Linked DNA regions of Homo sapiens. The protein of the gene in region 4 purifies or fractionates together with the protein of the main gene of each other region. This does not show direct contact. Each region holds a gene or a part of one and is shown on either strand. Other genes may lie near its edges.

The links.
Region 1: the proteins of SH2D3C (region 4) and PGM3 purify together in Homo sapiens (affinity purification with mass spectrometry; one large-scale study listed by BioGRID and IntAct). This does not show direct contact.
Region 2: the proteins of SH2D3C (region 4) and CAT purify together in Homo sapiens (affinity purification with mass spectrometry; one large-scale study listed by BioGRID and IntAct). This does not show direct contact.
Region 3: the proteins of SH2D3C (region 4) and TBCD purify together in Homo sapiens (affinity purification with mass spectrometry; one large-scale study listed by BioGRID and IntAct). This does not show direct contact.
Region 5: the proteins of SH2D3C (region 4) and ALDH1A3 purify together in Homo sapiens (affinity purification with mass spectrometry; one large-scale study listed by BioGRID and IntAct). This does not show direct contact.
Region 6: the proteins of SH2D3C (region 4) and NQO1 purify together in Homo sapiens (affinity purification with mass spectrometry; one large-scale study listed by BioGRID and IntAct). This does not show direct contact.
Region 7: the proteins of SH2D3C (region 4) and USP34 purify together in Homo sapiens (affinity purification with mass spectrometry; one large-scale study listed by BioGRID and IntAct). This does not show direct contact.

What each region holds. Positions count from the first base shown.
Region 1 is NC_000006.12:83,176,266-83,179,765, reverse strand, and holds part of PGM3 (phosphoacetylglucosamine mutase), read left to right. Parts: intron 1-1,009; coding exon 1,010-1,093; intron 1,094-3,500. UniProt on the Homo sapiens protein: Catalyzes the conversion of GlcNAc-6-P into GlcNAc-1-P during the synthesis of uridine diphosphate/UDP-GlcNAc, a sugar nucleotide critical to multiple glycosylation pathways including protein N- and O-glycosylation.
Region 2 is NC_000011.10:34,441,934-34,445,433, reverse strand, and holds part of CAT (catalase), read right to left. Parts: intron 1-3,500. UniProt on the Homo sapiens protein: Catalyzes the degradation of hydrogen peroxide (H(2)O(2)) generated by peroxisomal oxidases to water and oxygen, thereby protecting cells from the toxic effects of hydrogen peroxide.
Region 3 is NC_000017.11:82,758,565-82,762,064, forward strand, and holds part of TBCD (tubulin-specific chaperone D), read left to right. Parts: intron 1-3,500.
Region 4 is NC_000009.12:127,772,167-127,775,666, reverse strand, and holds part of SH2D3C (SH2 domain-containing protein 3C), read left to right. Parts: intron 1-1,199; coding exon 1,200-1,677; intron 1,678-3,500. UniProt on the Homo sapiens protein: Acts as an adapter protein that mediates cell signaling pathways involved in cellular functions such as cell adhesion and migration, tissue organization, and the regulation of the immune response.
Region 5 is NC_000015.10:100,903,831-100,907,330, reverse strand, and holds part of ALDH1A3 (retinaldehyde dehydrogenase 3), read right to left. Parts: intron 1,809-3,500; coding exon 1,644-1,808; intron 211-1,643; coding exon 53-210; intron 1-52. UniProt on the Homo sapiens protein: Catalyzes the NAD-dependent oxidation of aldehyde substrates, such as all-trans-retinal and all-trans-13,14-dihydroretinal, to their corresponding carboxylic acids, all-trans-retinoate and all-trans-13,14-dihydroretinoate, respectively.
Region 6 is NC_000016.10:69,716,561-69,720,060, reverse strand, and holds part of NQO1 (NAD(P)H dehydrogenase [quinone] 1), read left to right. Parts: intron 1-1,526; coding exon 1,527-1,691; intron 1,692-1,807; coding exon 1,808-1,938; intron 1,939-3,500. UniProt on the Homo sapiens protein: Flavin-containing quinone reductase that catalyzes two-electron reduction of quinones to hydroquinones using either NADH or NADPH as electron donors.
Region 7 is NC_000002.12:61,345,588-61,349,087, reverse strand, and holds part of USP34 (ubiquitin carboxyl-terminal hydrolase 34), read left to right. Parts: intron 1-201; coding exon 202-332; intron 333-607; coding exon 608-1,218; intron 1,219-3,500. UniProt on the Homo sapiens protein: Ubiquitin hydrolase that can remove conjugated ubiquitin from AXIN1 and AXIN2, thereby acting as a regulator of Wnt signaling pathway.

The DNA.
Region 1 (3,500 bases), on a different chromosome or scaffold from region 4:
TGAAATAGTTCCATATTTTACAATCATTTGTCAGAAGGGCACAATTTATGACAAATTCTTTACATTAGTGGGCAGAAAATTAAAAAAAGAGCAGTGGTAATACCCAGTCATTTGAACATTTGAGGCATTGGCTTTGGAACCTGAAGGTACTCTTTTCCTCCTTATACTGGCTGAGTTTTGTGATTTGAAGCTTTAGGAAGTTTTGCTTCCATCATAATTGAAACTTTGATGACAGTTCTGTGGTCACTCCATAAAAGCCCTAAATTCTAATAGGAAATCTCATCATCTGATATATTAACTGATTATGATAAGCTTAGTAATGTGAGATTTGTTTCATTTTGCTATTTTAGAAATAAATCTCAGGCTAGCTTTAAGTACACAATGTAATTGGAAATTATTATAATCTGGAAACAGCATACTTTAAGAATTTAATAGATTTTTTTTTTTTTTTTTTTTGAGACAGTGTTGCTCTGTTGCCCAGGCTGGAGTGCAGGGGCGTGATCTCGGCTCATTGCAACCTCTGCCTCCCTGGGCTCAAGCAATTCTTCTGCCTCAGCCTCCCAAGTAGCTGGGATTACAGATGCATGCCACCACACCTGGCTAATTTTTGTACTTTTAGTAGAGATGGGGTTTCACCATGTTGGCCAGGCTGGTCTCGAACTTTTGACCTCAGGTGATCCACCCACCTTGGCCTCCCAGAGTGCTGGGATTACAGGCGTGAGCCACCGTGCCTGGCCAGATACTTTTATTTAAAAAATTAAAGAGGTGAAGATCAGGAGATACAGGCTTCTTAAAAGAGGAATTCTCATAGAATTGTTTTAAATAGTGTTCAAATGTATTTTAGGCTTTTTTCCTGGCATACATGTAAATTTTCAGTCAGACATTTTTGGCATAAACTAAGGCACAACTGAACTGGCTGATAATTTTGGTAGCCTTTAGAACTCTCATTATATTTGTTTTTGTAGACCATACTTTTGATGGCAAGTTAAGTATCATTGTTTTTGTCTAGATTGGAGAAAGTTTGAATATTGGTGTTGTACAAACTGCATATGCAAATGGAAGTTCAACACGGTATCTTGAAGAAGTTATGAAGGTATTGAACCATTTTTGTTTTCTGGTAGTTTCTTAATTAAGATCATGTTTCTGTGAGAAAGATACTGCCCTCATAAAAGTGATTATGTTGTAGTGCATGAAGCTGAGCTGCTGTTCATGTAAAGGTAAAGAGAAATAAATAAGAAAAAATTTAGTTGTCCTTGATGAATAAAGGAAAACTTCTTTCCTTCCTTTTCTTGGAGTTTTCCTTTAGAAAACTTGGAATTCTTTCTCTGTGCCTTTGTAATGAATGTAAGTCTTTCTAAAGGCCTAATAAGCCAGTTTTATAGCTCAGGAATACTTTTCTTTAAGGGCCTAGAGTCACCAATTTCAAATATAAACATCAAGGAAGATAGCTCACCTATCTCCCAGTCTCAGGAGAGTTTAACTTAGGTGTTTGCGTCCAATTTGTAACTATCTACCTGTCACAGAGGTATGAAAAGTTTTATTACTCCTTTAGAGAAGGGCAGTTAACACAGGTGGCCATCCCTATTACCAAGTAAGTTTAGGATAAACTATGTGTGTGACAAATGGTGGTTTCAAGTTTTCCTATTTGAGGACTAGTGTTAAAGAAAAAATAATTCATGACACTTGTTAAAATGGTAAGGCAGACTTGATTCAGGACTGTTGTGATAGGTACAGGGACTAATGTGATGGAGTTTTGCAGTGGTAGGAGAAAGATTGGGCTCAACTCCAAATATAGTAAGGAAAAGTAGGGCTTTATAGCCAAGGAGCAGGGTGTGTGGGGGGTGGTCAGTGGATGAAAAATTACTGAGAGGAAACATGAGGGTAAGTGGGTGGTATTTTGGCTAAACTGATCTAACAGGACTTTTGCTGAAGGTAGGCCAGGGCGGTCACATATTACCTGGGGGATGGTAGAGAATGAGAACTCAGATCAGATGTCAAGAGTGGTCATGTATCAGGATGAGGGATTCTCGCTAAGCTCACTTAGCATGACTCTTATTAAAATCGGGCTATTGGAAGACATGCCTAAGGACAAGGCCTAGTCAGGCCCACCTAAACCTAACTAAAGTTTGGTCAAGGAGAGAATTTTTGTCATTAGCCATCTTTTATCTTAGCAAATTGTATTGGAATGTGTCCGCTTGGCTATATTAAAGGGTGAGCGTTTATCTTTGCTATCTCTTAGCAAATTAGCCTGTGATTGAACATCAGTTTGGCTTAATACTTATTCAGTAATAAAACTGTTTCTTACCCTTCTTTTTTTTTTGGAGAGGTTTTCTGGGGTGGTGGGAGATTCTGTTTCTAATTATTTCCCCGGTGTCCACCAGGTGACCACCCTTGGCACCACACTACTTGCTCGGAGAGTTACCAGGGTTCATGGACAAAACTGGAAGTCTGTTTGCCTATACTTTCTCATTATCGAGAAGTTTTCCAACTTTTTTGTACCTCATTTTGTACCTCGTTCTGGCATTTATACTAGTTTTAGTTACCTTTCCATTCTCTAGAAAGCAGGAATTACAAAGTCAGATTCCTGCAGGATTTGGACAGGTAAAGTGAATGAGGGCAGCAGGGGGCTAAAAACAGGTCAGTATGTGCCAGCTGATGTCAACTGTAGTCACACTCTTCAAGAGAAGCAGGAAATCTGAATTTTCATGTGATGTTCCTATTTGTTTAAAAAGAAACAGTGGCTGGGCAAAACGAAATATATCTTGAGGCTGCTAGTTTATGACCTGATTTTAATATATGGTTATAATAAGCTCATTCAAGGGATTCCATCTGGGGCCCATTTGCCTGCCTTTCACAGGGATTGGGTTATTTCACAGTACTTGGGTTATTGTTTTAGGATTTTCATTTTCTGTCTTAAAAATTTATTACAGATAAAATAACCTAGTTTAAGAAACTGTTACTTCTCAACTCACTGTCTTCCAGATGAAATATTTTTAGCCCTTGCCATTCCTGAGGTCTCCTACATCCAATCTAATGCTGATCTTTCTTTTGCAGTTTTTCTACTATCAATCTTTCCTTAACCATTCTTAAAGCTCTCTCAGATCCATCCATCCATGACTTTCCCTATTCACTATTGCTGATCCAGCCACTATTTCTTACTGGGATTAGTCCTAGAAGCCTCCTCATTCCATTTCTTAACCTTCTAATTGAACTTGCTGCTATTTGCAAACAAAGTTTTATTGGAATAGAGCTATGTTGATTTGTTTATGTATGGTCTGTGGCTGCTTTTGCACTGTAATGGCAGAGTAATTGTGACAGAGACCATATGGCCTGCAAAGCCTAAAATATTTACTGTCTGGCCTGTTACAGAAAAAGCTTGCAATTCTGCTCTAAGCTATTCTCCACACTGTAGCTAAACAGCTTTCTAAAACAGTTAGGTCATGTCACGCCCCCACTTGTAATCTTTCGTGTCTTATAAGGAGACCCTCATCTCTCTCACC
Region 2 (3,500 bases), on a different chromosome or scaffold from region 4:
ACCTCCACCTCCTCCCGGGTTCAAGCAATTCTCCCGTCTCAGCCTCCCAAGTAGTTGGGATTACAGGCGACCACCACCACACCCAGCTAATTTTTGTATTTTTAGTAAAGACAGGGTTCCATCATGTTGGCCAGGCTGATGATCTCAAACTCCTGACCTCAAGAAATCCGCCCATCTTGGCCTCCCAAAGTGCTGGGATTATAGGCGTGAGCCACCGCGCCCAGCCTGTCACTATTTTTCCTCTCTAGACTGTGTACTCCTTTTACATCTATATACCTGATCCCTAATACACTGCTCAATATACTAACAAACATAAAACAAATGTGTGTGGATTCAGCATGCAAATAAACTAAACCACGGACCAATATGATATGGCCAAGAGCCTTTCTAACAAGCAGGAGGAAGCAGCAACAGTCTATCCCTCTCCCTGCATCGCCCCTCCAAAAAATGAGAGAAATATTTTAATTTATAAATTCTGATCAAACACCTTTAGACACACTTGTTATGAAAACTGCCACAGAAATTAGCTTGGCTAAAAACTAGCACAATTATTAGAAGTAGGGACTTAAAGTAAAATTCTATTTTGACTTTGCTGCCTTTATAGGCTTCTTTTGGCCAGAGCTAATACATAAATGAAGAAGTTTTCCTGGGAGGAGTAAGGTTGGCTTCATCTGGTGAAATATTTTATCAACATATTACACTTTCCACTTAGTAGTTCCCTTCACTCACAGAAGTTTCAAGAACCTAAACATATTCTTCCACTTTTAATTAAAAGATTGGTTAATGCAAATTGCCCATCAGTCCCAGAGGAGTCATAATGACGTCTTTTCATTCTGTGATAAAGAATGTGCCTAGCGTTTTCTAGCAAATAACTGCCTAACATTCTCCATTTATTCAACAAAGATTCAAGTGCCTACAACGTATACACCCACGTACAGGAAACCAAAGACTGTCCTGACCTTCAAATTTCTTGGTCTGTGGGAAAATAATAAGGGTGGTCTAGATATTGACTGCTGTGGAAGCTAAAGCAATTCCGTCTTAGATACTGATCCACCATGCTGACTTCTGATTAACTCCAGTTTTAAGATTTCCAGTTTATCTATTATTCCTTGTGAAAGAGCCCCTATTTACTATAAATCCTGCCCTGAGGTCAAACAACCTTGACATTATCATACTTCAGTCATGCCATACCTCCCTTCTGAATCGCCCTTCCCTATGGTATTAAGCCCTGGGTCTGAGGGGTAATGGTATGGGATCCACCATCTTGTCTCGCCAACACGCAAGACACAGACATGGTTTCTGGTCCTAAGTCCCTACTAAACATTTCTTTCTGAGAAACTTGATTTGTCAGCCTCTTTCTTTGGCCTCTCAGCTTCCTCAGACTTTGGGGGTAGGTTTGCATAGACCTACCCACCATGCAAAAGCTAAAAAAAAGAAATGAAACCTTAAAAATTTCTGTCCCATCTCCCATAGTCTCTCCCACTGCACATAATGACTTAGCGATTCCATACCTAGGTATATTTCAGGAGAAATGAAAGCACATGTGGACCAAGGGTTAAGTCACTCAGTCACCCCTTCTCCATCCCAAATGTTAGCAGTGTAACATCAATGCAGTTATTACCAGGATTACCCTAAAAAAATATAGACCCTCACAGGCTATAATGCATAGGCAACTCACTGACAGAAATGGATAGTCTAAGACTTAACCTCTCTCCCAGGTAATAAGAGAACTGTATAAAAAGGTAAGGTTTGAAATGTTCAAATTCTCCCATTTTAAAGGGATCAGAGGCTACTTATTAACATTTCCCATTTACCCCCAAGAAAAGAGCACTGGCAGCAAGCTGCACTTAAAAAAAAAAAAAGGAAATGGGTTAAAGGTAAGTATCTCAAAAGAAGAGCCCATGGCATTCTAAGCAGTGAGCAATAAAGTTCCCATTTAAGTTCCCTTCAAAGTGGCTGGGAATACCTGCACAACCACCTCCCTCCTGCCAAGAGAGAAAAAGAAATAAGAATTTTTAAGTGGATCGAGGTCATACTCATGAACACATCTGACTCAATGCTCACTTATTAAAGTTTACAAAACTCCCAATTCACCTGTCAGCAAACCAAATCTGACCACAGAAGATACGCCCAATAAATTGCTTTCACATGGTTGACTGTGTTTCCAAAATAGGACACTCTGATTCTTGAGAGAGGAGGCAACAGAGTGTTCGCCTATAGTAGTCCCAAACCATAAAGCTCTCCTAGATCAGTAAAGCATCACAACTAATTGGGAAGTGGAAGACATCATATTAGCACAAAGCTGCCCACTTAGATAAAAGCATTTACCAAGCAAGGGGAGATTTTTTTTTAATACCATCTGTTACTGTCATAATTTTCTAACAGAATATCTTAATGTCAGAAAGTAAAAATGACATATTCTTTAAAAAGAAATTATGTTGCATGTCCATTGCCGCATCACAAGAAAATGGCTGGACAGATTTTCACCAAATATGAAATGTACGCTTTGGATAATATAGTAGAGTCAGCTTCCTGGACAGGGGGTAGACTACCCCAGGTGTGGCCTGTAACAGAGTTCTAGCCAACAGAATGTAAGTGGCAGTGACCCTGGACCCTAAACCTTCCCACACTCATATACCCTTCTCCACGCTCTTGAGCCTTCTGTGCTGGACAGTGACGCCCATAAAAGCCATGTTTGACCAAGGGGGAGCTTCCTTCAGCCTGGTGCCCTCAATAACTGTGGGAAGCAGAGCACCCACCCACCTCCTTCAACCTCAAACCACTTTGGGCCATTCATGTAGGAAAGGAATACATTTCTTTTTTTTTCTTTTTGAGATGGAGTTTCACTCTTGTTGCCCAGGCTGGAGTGCAATGGCAGGATCTCGGCTTACTGCAACCTCCGCCTCCAGGGTTCAAGTGATTATCCTGCCTCAGCCTCCCAAGCAGCTGGGATTACAGGCATGTGCCACCACGCCCAGCTAATTTTGTATTTTTAGTAGAGACAGGGTTTCTCCATATTGGTCAGGCTAGTTTTGAACTCCTGACCTCAGGTGATCCGCCCACCTCAGCCTCCCAAAGTGCTGGATTATAGGTGTGAGTCACTGCACCCGGCCATAAATTTCTAATATGTTTATACCATGATACATGTTGAGATTTATTATTATAACACTTAGCCTACACATGATTCCACATGATTGAACTTAAAATATGGGCTATGAATTAATAATTTAAAAGCAATTCAATTTTTAAAAAGACAGAAAATTTGAACATATACTTCAAAGGAATATATACCAATGGTCAATAAGCATGTAAAAAGATGCTTTGCATCATTAGTCATCAGAGCAAAGCAAATTAAAACCATAATGAGATACCACTGCACACCCAACAACTAAATGTAAAAGACTGACAACACCAAAAGTTGGTAGGATGTGGAGCAACTGGAACTCCCATACACTGCTGATGAAGTATAAAATGGTACAACCACTTTGGAAAAAGGCTCA
Region 3 (3,500 bases), on a different chromosome or scaffold from region 4:
TGGAATTCCTTTTTAGAAAAAGGAAAATGTAGTCGTGGGATGCTGGTCCTTTGTCATTTGTTGCACATTTTTCCACCCTTTTGCTTTTTTTTTTTTCTTTTTTTTTTTTTTTTTTGAGATGTAGTCTCTCTGTTGCCCAGGCTGGAGTATAGTGGCCCAATCTTGGCTCACTGCAACTTCTGCCTCCAGGGTTCAAGCGATTCTCCTGCCTCAGCCTCCAGCGTAGCTGGGATTACAGGCGTGTGCTACCACGCCTGGCTAATTTTTTGCATTTTTAGTAGAGACAGGGTTTCACCATGTTGGCCAGGCTGGTCTCAAACTCCTGACCCCCACGTGATCTGCCCACCTTGGTCTCCCAAAGTGCTGGGATTACAGGTGTGAGCCATTGTGCCCGGCCTGCTTTTGCCTTTTAATATTGTGTCTGGTGTATTTTATCTACTGAAGTTTTTTCGTGTTTGTTTTTTTAAAGAGATGGGATCTCGCTCTGTCACCCAGGCTGGAGTGTAGTGGCGCAGTCATAGCTCACTGCAGCCTTGAGCTCCTGGGATTAAGTGATCTTCTCACTTCAGCCTCCTGCAGAGCTGGGACAACAGGCACAAGCTGCCATGCCTAGTTAATTAAAAAACTTTTTTTTTTGGCCAGGCGCAGTAGCTCATGCCTCTGATCCTAGCACTTTGGGAGGCCGAGGCGGGTGGATTACAAGGTCAGGAGTTCAAGACCAGCCTGACCAACATGGTGAAACCCTGTCTCTACTAAAAATACAAAAATTAGCTGGGCATGGTGAAGCATGCCTGTAATCCCAGCTACTTGAGAGGCCGAGGCAGGAGAATTGCTTGAACTGGGACCCAGGACGCGGAGGTAGCAGTGAACGAGATCGTGCCACTGCACTCCAGCGTGGGCTACAGAGCCAGACTGTCTCAAAAAAAAAAAAATTTTGTTTTTGCAGGGTCAGGGTCACGCTGTGTTCCTCAGGCTGGTCTCGAACTTCTGGCCCCAAGCAATCCTGCCTTGGCCTCCCACAGTGCTGGGATGACAGGTGTGAGCCACTGCACCCAGTCTCTACTGAAGTTTTAGAAATATTTAGCTTGTCAAACTATCAGTTTCTTTGTGTTTGGCCTTTGGTAGTACGGTTAGAAAGTTTATTTTTCCTAATCAGTTATGTAAGCCTCATTTATTGGATGATTTAGTGGCCTCTCCCCTACTTGAAATGCCATTTTAAATCTATATTAAATATTCAAATATATTAGCCTTTGCTTTTAGATTTTTTATCCTGTTCCATTGACCTATCTGTATGCTCTTTTTTCTGGGTCATTTCGTTTGTTTGTTTTTTTTTTTTTTTTGAGATGGAGTCTCGCTCTGTCACCCAGGCTGGAGTGCAGTGGCGTGTTCTTGGCTTACTGCAACCTCCGCCTCCCAGGTTCAAGAGATTCTCCTGCCTCAGCCTCCCGAGTAGCATGTGCCACCACGCCTGGCTAATTTTTGTATTTTTAGTAGAGAACGGTTTTCATCATGTTGGCCAGGATAGTCTCGAACTCCTGACCTCAAGCAGTCTGCCCGCCTTGGCCTCCCAAAGTGCTGGAATTAGAGGCGTGAGCCACCACGCCTGGCCTGGGTCATTTTGTTTGATGTTAGTTTATATTTTGCCTGGCATCCTTTCCTCTTATTTTCTTGATGGTTTTGTAGCCCGTTCATTAATGCGGATGAACTCCGGAATTATTTTATCACTCTCCACCCTTTGGAATTCTATTAAATTCACAAATTCATGTAGGGGAGAAGTCTTTCTAAGATTTAATTTTCATGTCTAAGATCATGGTATTATGTCTCTAATTATTCACATCTTTTGTGTTCCTCAGTGAAGGTTGGTGATTTTCTTTAGATGATTCCTGGAGACTTTTTTTTAGGTTTATTTCTAGGTATGTTTTGTCTTTTATTGCTCTTGTGAAACTATTTGTTATGTGTTCTAACTAGTTATTGCTGATGTCTAGTGAAGATATGTTTTGTATACTGTTTTTGTAAATGGCAACACTGTAATGGAATATGTATGTGTAAACATACATTTCTTAACATCTTTATAGGGATATAATTACATACTATAGAGTTCACTCTTCTAAATATACATTTTAGTGTTAGTGTATTAGTGTATTACAGAGTTGTGTAACTATCACTACCACAATCTAGGCATTTTCATCATCTGAAGCAACCCAACTCCCATCAACAATTCCTTCCCATTCTCTGCTTCCGCAGTAACCACTCATCTGGCTCTGGGTTTGTGTGTATTCAGCATTTTGTGTGATGGAATCATGCAGTAGGAGGTCTTTTGGCACTGGCTTTTTTCACTTAGCATCATGTCTATGAGGTTCACTGTGTGATGAAATGTTTACTTCAATAGTTTTTCAGTCTTTTTTTTTTTTTGGAGACAAAGTCTTGCTCTGTCACCCAGGCTGGAGTGTAATGGCGTGATCTTGGCTCACTGCAACCTCCTTCTCCTGGGTTCAAGCGATTCTCCTGCCTCAGCCTCCTGAGTAGCTGGGATTACAGGCGCCACCTGTAAAATTAGCCTGGCCAATTTTTGTATTCTGAGTAGAGACAGGGTTTCACCATGATGGCCAGGCTTGTCTTGAACTCCTGACCTCAGGTGATCCACCTGCCTCGGCCTCCCAAAGTGCTGGGATTACAGGCGTGAGCCACCGTGCCCGGCCAGTTGTTTCTTCTGGGTTTTCTTAGCAGGTAAATATTATATGGTTTGTAAATAATGCTACTCTTTATCCACGATTATAAATTTTTATTCTTAGAACATTTTATTGAGTTTTAATTTTATTGAGTTTAAAATTTACCTACTATAAAATGCACCCATTTTAGTAAGATGTTTGAGTTTCGGTAAATGTATACACCCCGCGCTATCAAGATATGGAACATTTCTGTCATCCCAAGGAGTTACTTGATGTCCTTTTGCTGTCAGTCCCCTCACCCCAGCCCTAGGGAACCACTGTTGGTTAATGGTACTGTTCATTAGTTTTGCCTGTTCTAGAATCATTCAGTATGTGCTCTTTTTGTCTTCCGTTGTTAAAATAACATCTCCGGGACTTACCATTGTTGGTGTGTGTATCAGTAGTTTGTACGTTTTCTCTCGTGCTGATAAATCACAATTTGTTTCTTCTTTTTTTTTTTTGAGATGGAGTCTTGGTCTGTTGCCCAGGCTGGAGTGCGGTGGAGTGCAGTGGTGCGATCTCGGCTCACTGCAAGCTCTGCCACCCGGGTTCACGCCATTCTCCTGCCTCAGCCTCCCGAGTAGCTGGGACTACGGGTGCCCGCCAACACACCCAGCTAATTTTTTTTTTATTTTTAGTAGAGACGGGGTTTCACCTTGTTAACCAGGATGGTCTCGATCTCCTGACCTCGTGATCCGCCCGCCTCAGCCTTCCAAAGTGCTGGGGTTGTTTCTTCTTTTATCTGTTGATGGACATTTGAGTTGTTTCCGGTTTTTGGCTGTTATTAATAAT
Region 4 (3,500 bases):
AGCTAACTTTTTATTTTTATTTATTTATTTATTCATTTTGAGATGGAGTCTCACTCTTGTCACCCAGGCTGGAGTGCAATGGTGCAATCTCGGCTCACTGCAACCTCCACCTCCAGGATTCAGGCTATTATCCTGCCTCAGCCTCCCAAGTAGCTGGGATTACAGGCATGCACCATGCCCAGCTAATTTTTGTATTTTTAGTAGAGACAGGGTTTCACCATGTTGACCAGGCTGGTCTCGAACTCCTGACCTCAGATGATCTGCCCGCCTCAGCCTCCCAAAGTGCTGGGATCATAGGCATAAGCCATGGCACCAGGCCTTACTTTTTTATTTTTTGTAGAGACAGGGTCTTGCTATGTTGCCGAGGCTGGTTTTGAACTCTTGACCTCAAGCAGTCCTCCTGGCTCATCTTTCCAAAGTGTTGGGATGACAGGTGTGAGCCACCACACCCAGCTGAGAAACATTTATTATCGTCATCATCATCATCTTTGCTAATTCTGATTGAGGCTATTCTGTGTGCCAAGCACCATGTTAAGCATGTTATTTATAATCTTTTCTTTCTTTTTCTTTTTAATTTTGAGACGGAGTTTTGCTCTTATTGCCCAGGCTGGAATGCAATGGTGCAGTCTCGGCTCACTGCAACCTCCGCCTCCCGGGTTCAAGCAATTCTCCTGCCTCAGCCTCCCAAGAAGCTGGGATTACAGGTGCGCCACCACACCCGGCTAATGTTTGTATTGTTAGTAGAGAAGGGGTTTCATCATGTTGTCCAGGCTGGTCTCGAACTCCTGACCTCAGGTGATCCACCCGCCTCGGCCTCCCAAAGTGCTGGGATTACAGGCATGAGCCACCACGCCTGGCCTAAGCTTTTCTGTAATTCTCACATTGCCCTAGTGGGTAGGTGCTAGAATCTCTATTTTACTGATGTGGAGAATGAGGCTAAGCTTAGAGAGGTCAAGTGACTTGCCTAAGGTCACACAGCTAGGATGTGAAAGAGCAGGAATTCAAGTCCAGGGCCCCGTGACTCCAAAGCTCCCATCTTATACCATTTCTAGGGGCGTGTTAACAATTTTAGAAGGGGTGTCTGGGAAACCGCCAGCCCTCTTCAGCCCCTCACCGAGTGAAACTGCAGGAATTGTTCATTATTATCACTGATGTTGACATTGTCATTAACTTCTTTTCCTTCCCTTCCCCTCTGCTAGAGTTCTTCAAGTTCAAGGGCTTTGGGAGTCTCTCCAACCTCCCTCGGTCCTTCACTCTGAGACGATCCTCAGCTTCCATCAGTAGGCAGTCCCATTTGGAGCCTGACACCTTTGAAGCCACGCAGGATGACATGGTGACGGTGCCCAAGAGTCCCCCAGCCTATGCCCGCTCCAGTGACATGTACAGCCACATGGGCACCATGCCTCGCCCCAGCATCAAGAAAGCACAGAACTCACAGGCTGCCCGGCAGGCCCAGGAGGCGGGTCCCAAGCCCAACTTGGTACCCGGAGGTGTACCCGACCCCCCAGGCTTGGAGGCAGCCAAAGAGGTGATGGTGAAGGCCACTGGCCCTCTAGAGGACACCCCAGCAATGGAACCCAACCCTTCAGCAGTGGAGGTAGACCCCATCAGAAAGCCTGAGGTCCCCACAGGAGACGTAGAAGAGGAGAGACCTCCCAGGGACGTGCACTCAGAAAGGTAGGTGCCCAGGGGCTGGTTGGGACCTGCAGGGATGGCTTCTGTTTTTTTCTTTTTCTTTTTTTTTTTTTTGACACAGAGTGTCGCTCTGTCTCTCAGGCTGGAGTGCAGTGGTGTGATCCCGGTTCACTGCAACCTCTGCCTCCCGGGTCCAAGCAATTCTCCTACCTCAGCCCCCCGAGTAGCTGGGACTACAGGCGCCCAACACCACTCTTGGCTAATTTTTGTATTTTTAGTAGAGACAGGATTTCACCATGTTGTCCAGGCTGGCCTCGAACTCCTGACCTCAGGTGATCTGCCTGCCTCGGCCTCCCAAAGTGCTGGCCGGGGCTTCTTTTTAACCCAGTACACATCTGGGTTAAAAAGAAAAAAACCTACACATTGACCAGGTGCTTACTGTAGACCAGGTACTGTGCTAAACCCTTTACTTGTAATTAGCAAAAGAAAACTGGCAAGGAGAGACTGTTACTGTTTCCACAGGACAGATGAGGAAGCTGAGATTCACAGAGTGACATCATCTGCCTCAGTCAGGGTGCATATTTGCTAATGACAAAGCCAGCATGTGAACCGAGACCCCCTGCCTTCAAAGTCCCAGTTAGCCTCTAGCATGGGCCCTCAGCTGCTGGATGGGTCCTAAACCCAGTCACTAGACCCCTGCCCTGAACCCCCTCACGCAAATCATCACCATTAGTTCTGCTGGACAATACCTCCACCTAGTCTAGAAAACCATTTGTCAGCTTAATTTGGTTATAGGGTGAGTTGAGTTCATGTAAAAATACAAATTGTGATGATAGGACAATAGCTCCCATTTAGTAAGCATTTTTACTGGGTATCAAAACAAGTATCTCACTGAAAACTCCATAGAAGATTCAATCATTAAGGCTGGGTGCAGTGGCTCATGCCTGTAATCCCAGTATTTTGGGAGGCTAGGAGTTTGAAAACAGCCTGGCTAACATGGTAAAACCCCGTCTCTACTAAAAATACAAAAACTAGCAGGGCGTGGTGGTGCGTGCCTGTAGTCCCAGTTACTCAGGAGGTGGAGGCACGAGAATTGCTTGAACTTGGGAGATGGAGGTTGCAGTGAGCTGAGATCACACCACTGTACTCCAGACTGGGCAACAGAGCAAGACTCAGTCTTGAAAAAAAAAAAAAAGATTCAATTATTAGCCCCACTTACAGATTGGGAAACTGAGACTCAGCCAAGGTTACACAGAACTGGGATTTGAGCAGGAATCTGCTTGCTTCCAGAGGCTGCACACTTATGTACCACATTAGACTCACCACCTTCTCAATCCTAGGGCCATGCCTTTCACACCCCGGGAGACCCCTCAATCCCAGCCAAAGGAGTCCCCGGCTTTTCAATCCTTAGAACCTTTGTCTCAACCACACCAGTCACATGTGCCTGTTGAAATAAAGAAAAAAAGTCAGCTGGCCGGGCGCAGTGGCTCACGCCTGTAATCCCAACACTTTGGGTGGCCGAGGTAGGCAGATCACAAGGTCAGGAGTTCGAGACCAGCCTGGCCAAAGAGACCAGCCTGACCAACATGGTGAAGCCCTATCTCTACTAAAAATACAAAAATTAGCCGGGTGTGGCGGCGGGCACCTGTAATCCCAGCTACTGAGGAGGCTGAGGCATCAGAATTGCTTGAACCTGGGAGGCAGAGGTTGCAGTGACCCAAGATCGCGCCATTGCACACTCCAGCCTGGGCGACAAAGCGAGACTCCAACTCAAAAAAAAAAAAAAAAAAAAGCCACCTGAGCAAAAGTAATTGTAGGGCCAGAGTTCTGGGACCTTTCTTTCTTTTGTTTTTTTCTGGTAACTT
Region 5 (3,500 bases), on a different chromosome or scaffold from region 4:
ACTTAGCAAGAAGCAACTCAGGAGAGCTGAAATACACACACAGTCAACTCACCAGACCGTTCCAGACTCTAAGGCAGAAGCCAACTTCAGGGCTTTGTCGAGATTTTTTGTGAACACGGCTGCTGTGAGTCCATAGTCGGTGCTATTCGCTCTTTTTATCACTTCTTCGATACTTTTGAACTTCAGTATTGGTTGCACTGGCCCGAAAATCTATGATTAATTGCAAGAATGGCAATGAGAGGCATGACTGAATGGAAATGCATGCTGTGAACAAGCATTTCCTTCTCTTTACATGTTTTTCATATGCCCAGAGCACACACATGCCTGAAAAACGATGATTAGAGAAGAAAGAACGTCCAAACATTGCTTCAGCTGCATTGCCATTGGAGACTGAAGGGAAGGATTAACATGAAACAAAAATAAAAAATAATAACAAAAAATATATGTTGTGTTTAAGATGTCTTGTTGTCATCAGGGTTTCCGAGAAACCCAGCCAGAGAGCCTTGGAGTAACCCATAGATGCACAGAACACAAAACCTTTAGGTAACTTTTTTCGGAGTTGTCCTGAAGGATATCTGCAGGCACTTTGTAAGACTGTGCTCCTACCTCTTGGAGCTGTGTTTTCTACCAAGGAAGACACCCTAGAACGTTTCCATAATAACTACCAGGGGAAGGAATGACACAATATTCACCACAGTTTGTGACACAGCAAAGAAAAGGAAATGGAAGAACTAAGGCTTGAACATTTAAAGGTGATTTTGAAGGGAGCTTGTAATTGATTCAATATTAGACATAATTATAAGCCGGCAGGATGGTGCCTGGCCTGCCAAAATACCTTCCGGGTTCCCCAGGACCTCTCGTCACAGGGATGTTTAAGGAGCTGAGCTTCATGCCATCACGGCACATAACAATCTCAAGGAAGACGCCTCTGAAATACCTGCCCCAGAAAGCCCTTGGCAGGGACTCATCCTTTTATGTGCCCCAAAATACCACCTCCAGGGTCTAACCTCCTGGGATCCAGCTCTCCTCTTACAAATGCTGTGTGGGAACCAGTTCCCGTCTAGTGTAACAGTGGAGTTGAAAGAGAAAGATTTACACTCTTATGGGAGTGGGGGAGTCTCCTTAATTTCCCTCATTTTCAAGACGTCCGTGGTGGAAAATGTCAATAAAAATTCCAGCTGTGACATGTTCCTTGAGTGAACACTTGAAATTCAGTCTAGGGGCACTGAAGGCGGCTTTGGGCCCTGAATCCACAGGTTCTTGAACTGATTCCTGGCAAAACCCACAGGTGGCAACAGTTCTCCACCTGCGGCTGCATGACTGACTCGGGGACCGGTTGTGTTAGAAAATCAGAGAGGGCTTGCTGCTCCCAGAGAGGGTGAGCCATGAGTGAAAACTAGCTAGAACAAACAAGGTACCTGCTGTATCATGCTTGGAGTTCGCCAGAGGCAGGACAAAACGGCTTCCCTAGGGACCCCAAAGGAGAGGGGAAAGACCACACAGAAAAAACAACAACGACAACAACAGCAACAAAAACAAAAAAACACTCAGATCACAAGGATTTCTGGGATCCCTGGGCCCTAGGGAAGGACTCGTGTTTGAAAGGCCCCGCAAGTCGTAGCCTTGCCACAGCCCCCTTGTACCTCCTCTTTGGCAATCCGCATGTTGTCTGTGACTTCTGAGAAGACAGTGGGTTTGATGAAGAGCCCCTTGTCTTCCATGGCTGAGCCCCCGCATTCCAGCTTGGCCCCTTCCTTCTTCCCACTCTCGATCAGCTCTAAGATTTTGTCGAACTGCTTTTGATCAATCTGCAAGACACAAACAAGAAGTACAGCCTGGCTTCCTTCTGGGCAGTGGCTGCCATCTCATGTTTTCAGTGGCCTTCAACATGATCAGCCATCCTCCCTCTGCATGTTCTTGTCAAGCCATGATCCATGTAACTAATGAGCCTTGCAGGCAAATATTCCTCTGATGCACAGAGCTGGGCTCTTTGGAGCAGGGGAGAGATGGGGAGATAGACTAGTCTCATCCTCTGGAGGTTTGGGACATATTTACACTTCTATCTCCCTTTTCCATGCAGCAAAGTTAGTCCATGAGTGACACAGGTCTGAAGTGGTCACAGTCTTTCTTCTCCCAACTCTTTACATTCTACTCAGGTTGCCAAATTTAGCAAATAAAAATACGGGATGCCCAGTGAATCTGAATTTCAGAAAAATGACACATAATTTTTTTTAGTATGTCCCAAAACAATATTTGGGATATACTTAAGCTAAAAGTGCATTTACTGTTTATCTGAAATTCATGTTTACCTGGGTGCCATGTATCACCTGGCAACCCTGTGCCCTGCTCAGTTGGCACCGTGAATCAGGGTAATAGTTACTGGAATTCTCCTGTCATGGTGCAGAGAAGCGAGAAGAAAAGCTAACCACCTTACTCAACACCCCTGGGGACAAAGCAGAATGAGCCTCCAGGTGGGGTGGCAGGGCTGCTCCTTGGTTGGTGGTGGGAACAGCTCATGAGAAAGACTCTCCCTTTTGCTATCTTGTCTAGACGTCTCCTTGGCTGGAGTTTGCCCTGTGCCACCAGCCTGACCCACAGCTTGTGAACACGCTACTGAGCAGTTGTCAAAAGCGCACCCTTTTGGGAGACTGCTCAAGAGGGAAAATGCTCTTTCTGCCCCCTCCACTGGTCCTTCTTCCTGAAATCTATGGGAATCTTGTCCTTTATCATGATCTGTGGCTGGTCTCCCTCCTCTTTGGCTGGGAGAGACAAAGCTTTACTAGGTTTACTTTAGCTGGGATTTTTAGATGGGAAAACTGGTTTCATTCCAATGATCATAAACAGAAAAAGAAGCAAACCCAGTGGTGCAATTGGATGACGGTCTGTCCTGGAGGAGCAGGAGAGAGGGCATAAACCGTGCATGCCACTTGACCAATCATCTCATGAAATATGGACCCAGTTTAAAAATACTAACTCAGATCCATACCTCACACTTTATACCAGGCCAAACTCCAAACCCAGTTTAAAAATACTGACTCAGATCCATACCTCACACCTTATACCAGGCCAAACTCCAAACCCAGTTTAAAAATACTAACTCAGATCCATACCTCACACCTTATACCAGGCCAAACTCCAAACCCAGTTTAAAAATACTAACTCAGATCCATACCTCACACTTTATACCAGGCCAAACTCCAAATAGATCAAAGATATAACCAGGAAAAACAAAACCATAAAAGTTTTATATGTGGGAGACTTATCCTGCAAACTTGGAGTGCCTTCTAATGACTCAAAATGCAGAAGCCAAAAAAGAAAAGATGTATAATTTTGAGTATGTAAAAAAAATGGGGTGGGGGCAAAATTATCATAACAAAGAGCAAAACAACAAACTTGGAAAAAATATTAACAAGTCATATTCATAGAAAGCTAATCTCTCTACTATGTATGTAAAGAGGTCTTAGAAGTGATAAGAAAAATGCCTAACAGCTTGCAAGAAA
Region 6 (3,500 bases), on a different chromosome or scaffold from region 4:
GGCTGGTCTTGAACTCCTGGGCTCAAGCAATGTTCCCGCCTTGGCCTCCCAAAGTGCTGGAATTAGAAGCGTGAGCAACCGTACCTGGTCAACAGTCTCTAAAAATTTTTTTTTATGACAAGGTGTCACTATGCTGCCCATGCTGGTCTCCATCTCCTGGCCTCAAGGGATCTTGCCGCCTCAGCCTTCCAAGTAGCTGGATTACAGGCTCCAGCCACTGTGCCCAGCCAGTTTAACTCATTCTTTTTTATATATTTTTTACTTTTATCTTAATTTATTTATTTTTCTGAGACAGGGTCTTACTCTGTCACCCAGGCTGGAGTGCAGTGGCAAGATCTCAGCTCACTGCAACCTCTGCTTCCTGGGTTCAAGCGATTCTCCTGCCTCAGGCTCCCGAATAGCTGGGATTACAGGTGCCCGCTACCACACCCAGCTAATTTTTGTATTTTTGTAGAGACAGGGTTTCACCATGTTGGCCAGGATGGTCTTGATCTCTTGACCTCGTGACCTGCCCGCCTCAGCCTCCCAAAGTGCTGGGATTACAGGCTCGAACCACCGTGCCTGGCCAACTCATTCTTGTTAACAGCAAAATATCCTGTAGTGTGGATGTACCCATAATTTCTTAAAATGTTCCCCATAGACAATCAGGTTATATCTAATTTTTGCCAGTGAAAAGCATGGTGTAATACACATCTTTGCTCTTATAGCCTGAAGCTTTTAGTCTGTAGAACAGATTCCCCCAAATTGGAGAGCGAGATAAAAGATTTATGTGTCTTTAAAGTTTCAAGAGATTCTGCCTCATTACTTTCCCTAAAGGTTGAGGCAGTTCTTATCCCCACCAGTAAGGTGCCAATTTTTCTGTTGGTACAATCTTAATAACCCTGGGTGTTATTTGTTTTACATTTTGTGGGTAAATGTAAACTCACGGTAAATGTAAACACAGTACCCATGTAAACGAATGGGTAAATGTCTCATTTTAATTTTGCTTTTCCTGACAGGTCACGCAGAGCATCTTTTTTTTTTTTTGAGACGGAGTCTCCCATTGTCACCCAGGCTGGAGTGCAATGGTGCAATCTTGGCTCACTGCAACCTCCCCCTCCCGAGTTCAAGTGATTCTCCTGCCTCAGCCTCCCAAGTAGCTGGGATTACAGGTGCCTGCCACCACACCCAGCTAATTTTTGTATTTTTAGTAGAGACAGGGTTTCACCATGTTGGCCAGGCTGGTCTCAAACTCCTGACCTCAGGTGATCTGCCCACCTTGGCCTCCCAAAGTGCTGGGATTACAGTTATGAGCCACAGAGCCCAGTTGTCAACATTATTTATTAAATCAGCCACTGATTTAAATGCTTCCTTTAATCTTCAGTGCTTTTAAGGGGAAAATACATTTCTGGCTACAGGAGATGGAATGCAATAACCTAATGTCAAACAAAGCCGCCCCCTCCTTTACAGACTGCAACTCCCCTGTAGCTGAAGGTTTGCTGGTTGGTAATGGGTTTTCCGTGTGTGCTTTGTGTGTGTCTCTGTAGGCAGAAGAGCACTGATCGTACTGGCTCACTCAGAGAGGACGTCCTTCAACTATGCCATGAAGGAGGCTGCTGCAGCGGCTTTGAAGAAGAAAGGATGGGAGGTGGTGGAGTCGGACCTCTATGCCATGAACTTCAATCCCATCATTTCCAGAAAGGACATCACAGGTAGGAGGAGTTCCTCCTCCCCTCTTTAATTAGTTCTTTGCGGATCTCCTTGCCTGTGGGTCCTCTGGCCCAGCTTTGGCCCCTCTGGCCCCAGCCTCTCTTTTTCTTCTCTGCAGGTAAACTGAAGGACCCTGCGAACTTTCAGTATCCTGCCGAGTCTGTTCTGGCTTATAAAGAAGGCCATCTGAGCCCAGATATTGTGGCTGAACAAAAGAAGCTGGAAGCCGCAGACCTTGTGATATTCCAGGTATGGGGGGACATCGGAAGGGGTGTCAGGGACATTTGCGTGCTTATTGTCCTAGACATGTACCTAATTAGCTATGAGATCTTAAACAGTTACCCACTTTACTGCATTCTCTGCAAATAAGGGTGATTACTTTAAAGGTGCAGTATTACATGGATTTCACAGATATTGGGAATCTGGCTGTATTACTGTTGCATGTGTAAATGCAACTGCAAGGCCAGGCACGGTGGCTCACGCCTGTAATCCCAGCACTTTGGGAGGCCAAGGCAGGTGAATCACAAGGTCAAGAGACCAAGACCATCCTGACCAACATGGTGAAACCCTGTCTTTACTAAAAGTACAAAAATTAGCTGGGCGTGGTGGCATGTGCCTGTAGTCCCAGCTACTCTGGAGGCTGAGGCAGGAGAATCACTTGAACCCGGGAGGTGGAGGTTGAAGTGAACCAAGATTGCGCCACTGCACCCCATCCTGGTGACATGGCGACAGAGCGAGATTCTGTCTCAAAAAAAAAAAAAAAAGAAAGAAAGAAATGCAGCTGCAGAGATGATGTACAGTCCTTGAGCTTGCTTTCTTCCAGGTACTTAGTCTCCCCTTCAGTTAGCGATTCCTTCAGTTAGCGATTCCTTCAGTTAGCGAATCCTGCGGTTAGCGATTCCTGTTGGACTCTCTCAAAATTTGCAGTTCTCCTCCTTTCTCCATAAGAATCCCAAATACTTTGTAGAATAATCCATGAGACATTGACTTCTCTGCCATTGTAGCCTGCCAGCTGAAGGGGGCTTTGAAACCCTGCTGAATGTGTTCCTGCAGCAAACCACGGCCTTTCTTCTTCGGGAAGCTGCCTTACCGTTTAGCAGACAATGCTGGGATTGTGCGTGCATCTCGTCAGTGATCTTTCCTATAAATGTGACTGTACTCAATGACTTTGCTTTTACAATTCCAGCCAGTCTTTTGATATTGAACATAGAATGTATATGATCCTGGAAACCACGAGGAGGGTGGTACAGGCTGTGTTTTTTTTTTCTCTCTCTCTCTCTTTTTTTTTTTTAGTTATTCAATCAGCTACAAAACATCCAATCCTTGAAGTCCTTTATTTTACCCACAGGCCTGTTGCTAAGAATCAAAGCCACATGCCACTAGCCAGTACCCCAAAGGACGGCTTTAAAAAAAAATTAAATTGGAGACAAGGTCTCACGGTCACCCAGGATGGAGTGCAGTGGCATGATCTCTGCTCACTGCTGCCTCAACCTCCTGGGCTCAAATGATCCTCCCACCTCAGTCTCCCGAATAGCTGGGACTATCAGTGCACACCACCATGCCCTGCTAATTTTTTAATTTTTTTGTACAAATAGGGTCTCACCATGTTGCCCAGGCTGGTCTCAAACTCTTGGGCTCAAGTGATCTGCCTGCCTGGACCTCCCAAAAGGCTGGGATTATAGGCATGTGCCTTTCATATCTTTAAATCATGAATCAAGGATAAGAAAACCTCCTGGTATAGTCCTTACTCTGCTTTTATTAGGATAAGAGGTCAGACAAGACTTTCTCATGGGAAGTCCCTGATGAACCTT
Region 7 (3,500 bases), on a different chromosome or scaffold from region 4:
TCTTAAACATCTTGACTTTTAATTGAATCTTACATCTTCTTTAGAAATCATGAGCAAATGTTAACATATTTAGAGATTTTATTTTTGGCTACTTAGCATAAAGCTTTGGTAACTAGGTCAAGGAATCAAATGATAATGTCATTCTGTTAAGTCAATGTTAATATAAATTAGAAGTAAAAACAAAAAATGTATTTTATATAGGGTCACCTGCAGCTAGTCCTCAAAGCAGTGATAATAGCGATACACATCAAAGTGGAGGTAGTGACATTGAAATGGATGAGCAACTTATTAATAGAACCAAACATGTGCAACAACGACTTTCAGACACAGAGGTATGAAAATAGGTTTTTCTTCTTTTATAGGCATTTTTGGCTTTCTGGCGTGTTTATCATTTGAATTGGGTATATATACATAATTCATGTTTGGGCTTGTCCTCTCCTTTACGTAATATTTTTGACATCCTTTGAGTTTTTAATTCCATTTTGTATTGTTCAAAGGAGTATAACAAGACTGGCAGCCTTTTTAAAAAGTACAGTTTATTAATGTTGGTTACCTTTTTTCTTACTGGTTTAAATATTTATTTAAATCTATTTGTTTCAAAATACAGGAATCCATGCAGGGAAGTTCTGACGAAACTGCCAACAGTGGTGAAGATGGAAGCAGTGGTCCTGGTAGCAGTAGTGGGCATAGTGATGGATCTAGCAATGAGGTTAATTCTAGCCACGCAAGCCAGTCAGCTGGGAGCCCTGGCAGTGAGGTACAGTCAGAAGACATTGCAGATATTGAAGCCCTCAAAGAGGAAGATGAAGACGATGATCATGGTCATAATCCTCCCAAAAGCAGTTGTGGTACAGATCTTCGGAATAGAAAGTTAGAGAGTCAAGCAGGCATTTGCCTGGGGGACTCCCAAGGCATGTCAGAAAGAAATGGGACAAGCAGCGGAACAGGAAAGGACCTGGTTTTTAACACTGAATCATTGCCATCAGTAGATAATCGAATGCGAATGCTGGATGCTTGTTCACACTCTGAAGACCCAGAACATGATATTTCAGGGGAAATGAATGCTACTCATATAGCACAAGGGTCTCAGGAGTCTTGTATCACACGAACTGGGGACTTCCTTGGGGAGACTATTGGGAATGAATTATTTAATTGTCGACAATTTATTGGTCCACAGCATCACCACCACCACCACCACCATCACCACCACCACGATGGGTAAGCCTACTTCAAAATAAATATTCAGTTCATATTTCCTTTAGGGAAGTATTATATCCTATATTCAATTTGCAATTTATTCTGTATTAGTGCTATTCATTAGTAGTATAGTGCAAACTATAAATGTAAGCTACAAATAGATAATTTCAAGTTTTCTATTGGGCACATTTAAAAACACAAAATGAAGCAGGTTGTTGGCCATGCACAGTGGCTCACACCTATAATCCCAGCACTTTGGGAGGCCGAGGCAGGTGGATCACTTGAGGTCAGGAGTTTGAGACCAGCCTGAACAACATGGTGAAACCCCATCTCTACTAAAAATAGAAAAATTAGCCGGGCATGGTGGTGCACGCCTGTAATCCCAGCTACTTGGGAGGCTGAGGCAGGAGAATCACTTGAACCTGGGAGGTGGAGGTTGCAGTGAGCTGAGATCACACCACTGCACTCCATCCTGGGCAACAGAGTGAGACTCAAAAGCAAAACGTTGAACAACAACAATAAAAAACCAGGTTGTTAATTTTAATCATGTTAAACCAATAATATCCACAATGCCATTTACACATGTAATAAGTATAAAAATTACTAAGGTATTTCCTTCCTTTTTTTCTTACCAAGTCTTCAATATTTAGTGCATATTTTATACTTATAGCACTTTTCAATTTAGACCAGCCACCCTTTAATTCTTTAAAATATTTATTGATTTATTTGTTTTCTTCTTCTTTTTTTCTTTGAGACAGGGTCTCGCTCTGTTGCCCAGGCCGGAGTGCAGTGGCACGATCTAGGCTCACTGCAACCTCCACTTCCCAGGCTCAAACAATTCTTGTGCCTCAGCCTCCTGAGTAGCTGGAATTACAAGCACCCACCACCATGCCTGGCTACTTTTTTAGTATTTTTAGTAGAGATGGGGTTTCACCGTGTTGACCAGGCTGATCTTGAACTCCTGACCTCAGATGATCTGCCCGCCTCGGCCTCCCAAAGTGCTGGGATCACAGGTGTGAGCCACCAGGCCCGGCCTTTTTTTTTTTTTTTTTTTTTTTTGAGTTGGAATCTCACTCTGTCACCCAGGCTGGAGTGCAGTGGCACAATCTTGGCTCACTGCAACCTCCGTCTCCCAGGTTCAAGCGATTCTTCTGCTTCAGCCTACTGAGCAGCTGGGACTACAGGTGCCCCCCACCCCCCACCCATGCCTGGCTAATTTTTGTATTTTTAGTAGGATGGGGTTTCACCATATTGGCCAGGCTGGTCTTGAACTCCTGACCTTATGATTCGGCCTGCCAAAGTGCTAGGATTGCAGGCGTGAGCCACTGCACCTGGCCTTTTTTTTTTTTTTTTTTTTTTTTTTAAGAGATAGGGTCTCACTTTGTCACCTAGGCTGTAGTGCAGTGATGTGATCATAGCTCACCGTAGTCTCAAACTCTTGGGCTCAAGCAATCCTCCTGCCTCAGCTTTCTGAGCACTTGAGACTTAAGGTGTGTGTTGCCACTCCTAGCTAATTCTTAATTTTTTTTTTTTTTTTTTATAGAGACAGAGTATTGCTATGTTGCCCAGGCTGGTCTTGAACCCCAGACCTCAGTGCTTTTGCCGCAGCCTCCCAAAGCTCTGGGATTACAGGCGTAAGCTACTTATACCCAGCCTAGACCTACCATGTTTTATGTGTGTAATGGTCACATATGGCTAGTTGGTATTATATTGGATAACACAGGATTAGATTTTCAACATCTTGTAATAAATGCCTAAAAAAGATATGAGTGCTTATGGAAACTTTCCTAAATTGTGATTAAGAAAGGGAAATTTTACACATCTAATTTTAGGGTATTTAAAAGGGTAAGCTCCAGCATAAAACTTTTTGGTTATCTGTGAAATATACCAAATAATGTGATTCTGTCACTTAGTGGTGGTATTATGATGGGCAAAATAATTAATTTTTCTTCATTTTTTCAATCTATAAAATGGGAACAATAATCCTAGTGCTTTGGAGGCTAAGGCAGGAGGATCGTTTGAGGCCAGGAGCTTGAGATCAGCCTGAGCAACTTAGTGGGGCCCTGTCTCTACAAAAATATTAAAAACACTAGCCAGGCATGGTATCACACACCTGTAGTTCTAGATAATTGGGAGGCTGAGGTGGAAGGATCGCTTGAGTCCAGGAGATCAAGACTGCAGTGAGTGGTGATTGCACCACTACACTTCAGCCTGGGCAATAGAATGAGACTCTGTCTCTAAAAATAAAATGGGCACAATAGTATCTATCTCATGGTTTTATTGTGAGGATTTCCTGGGCTAAC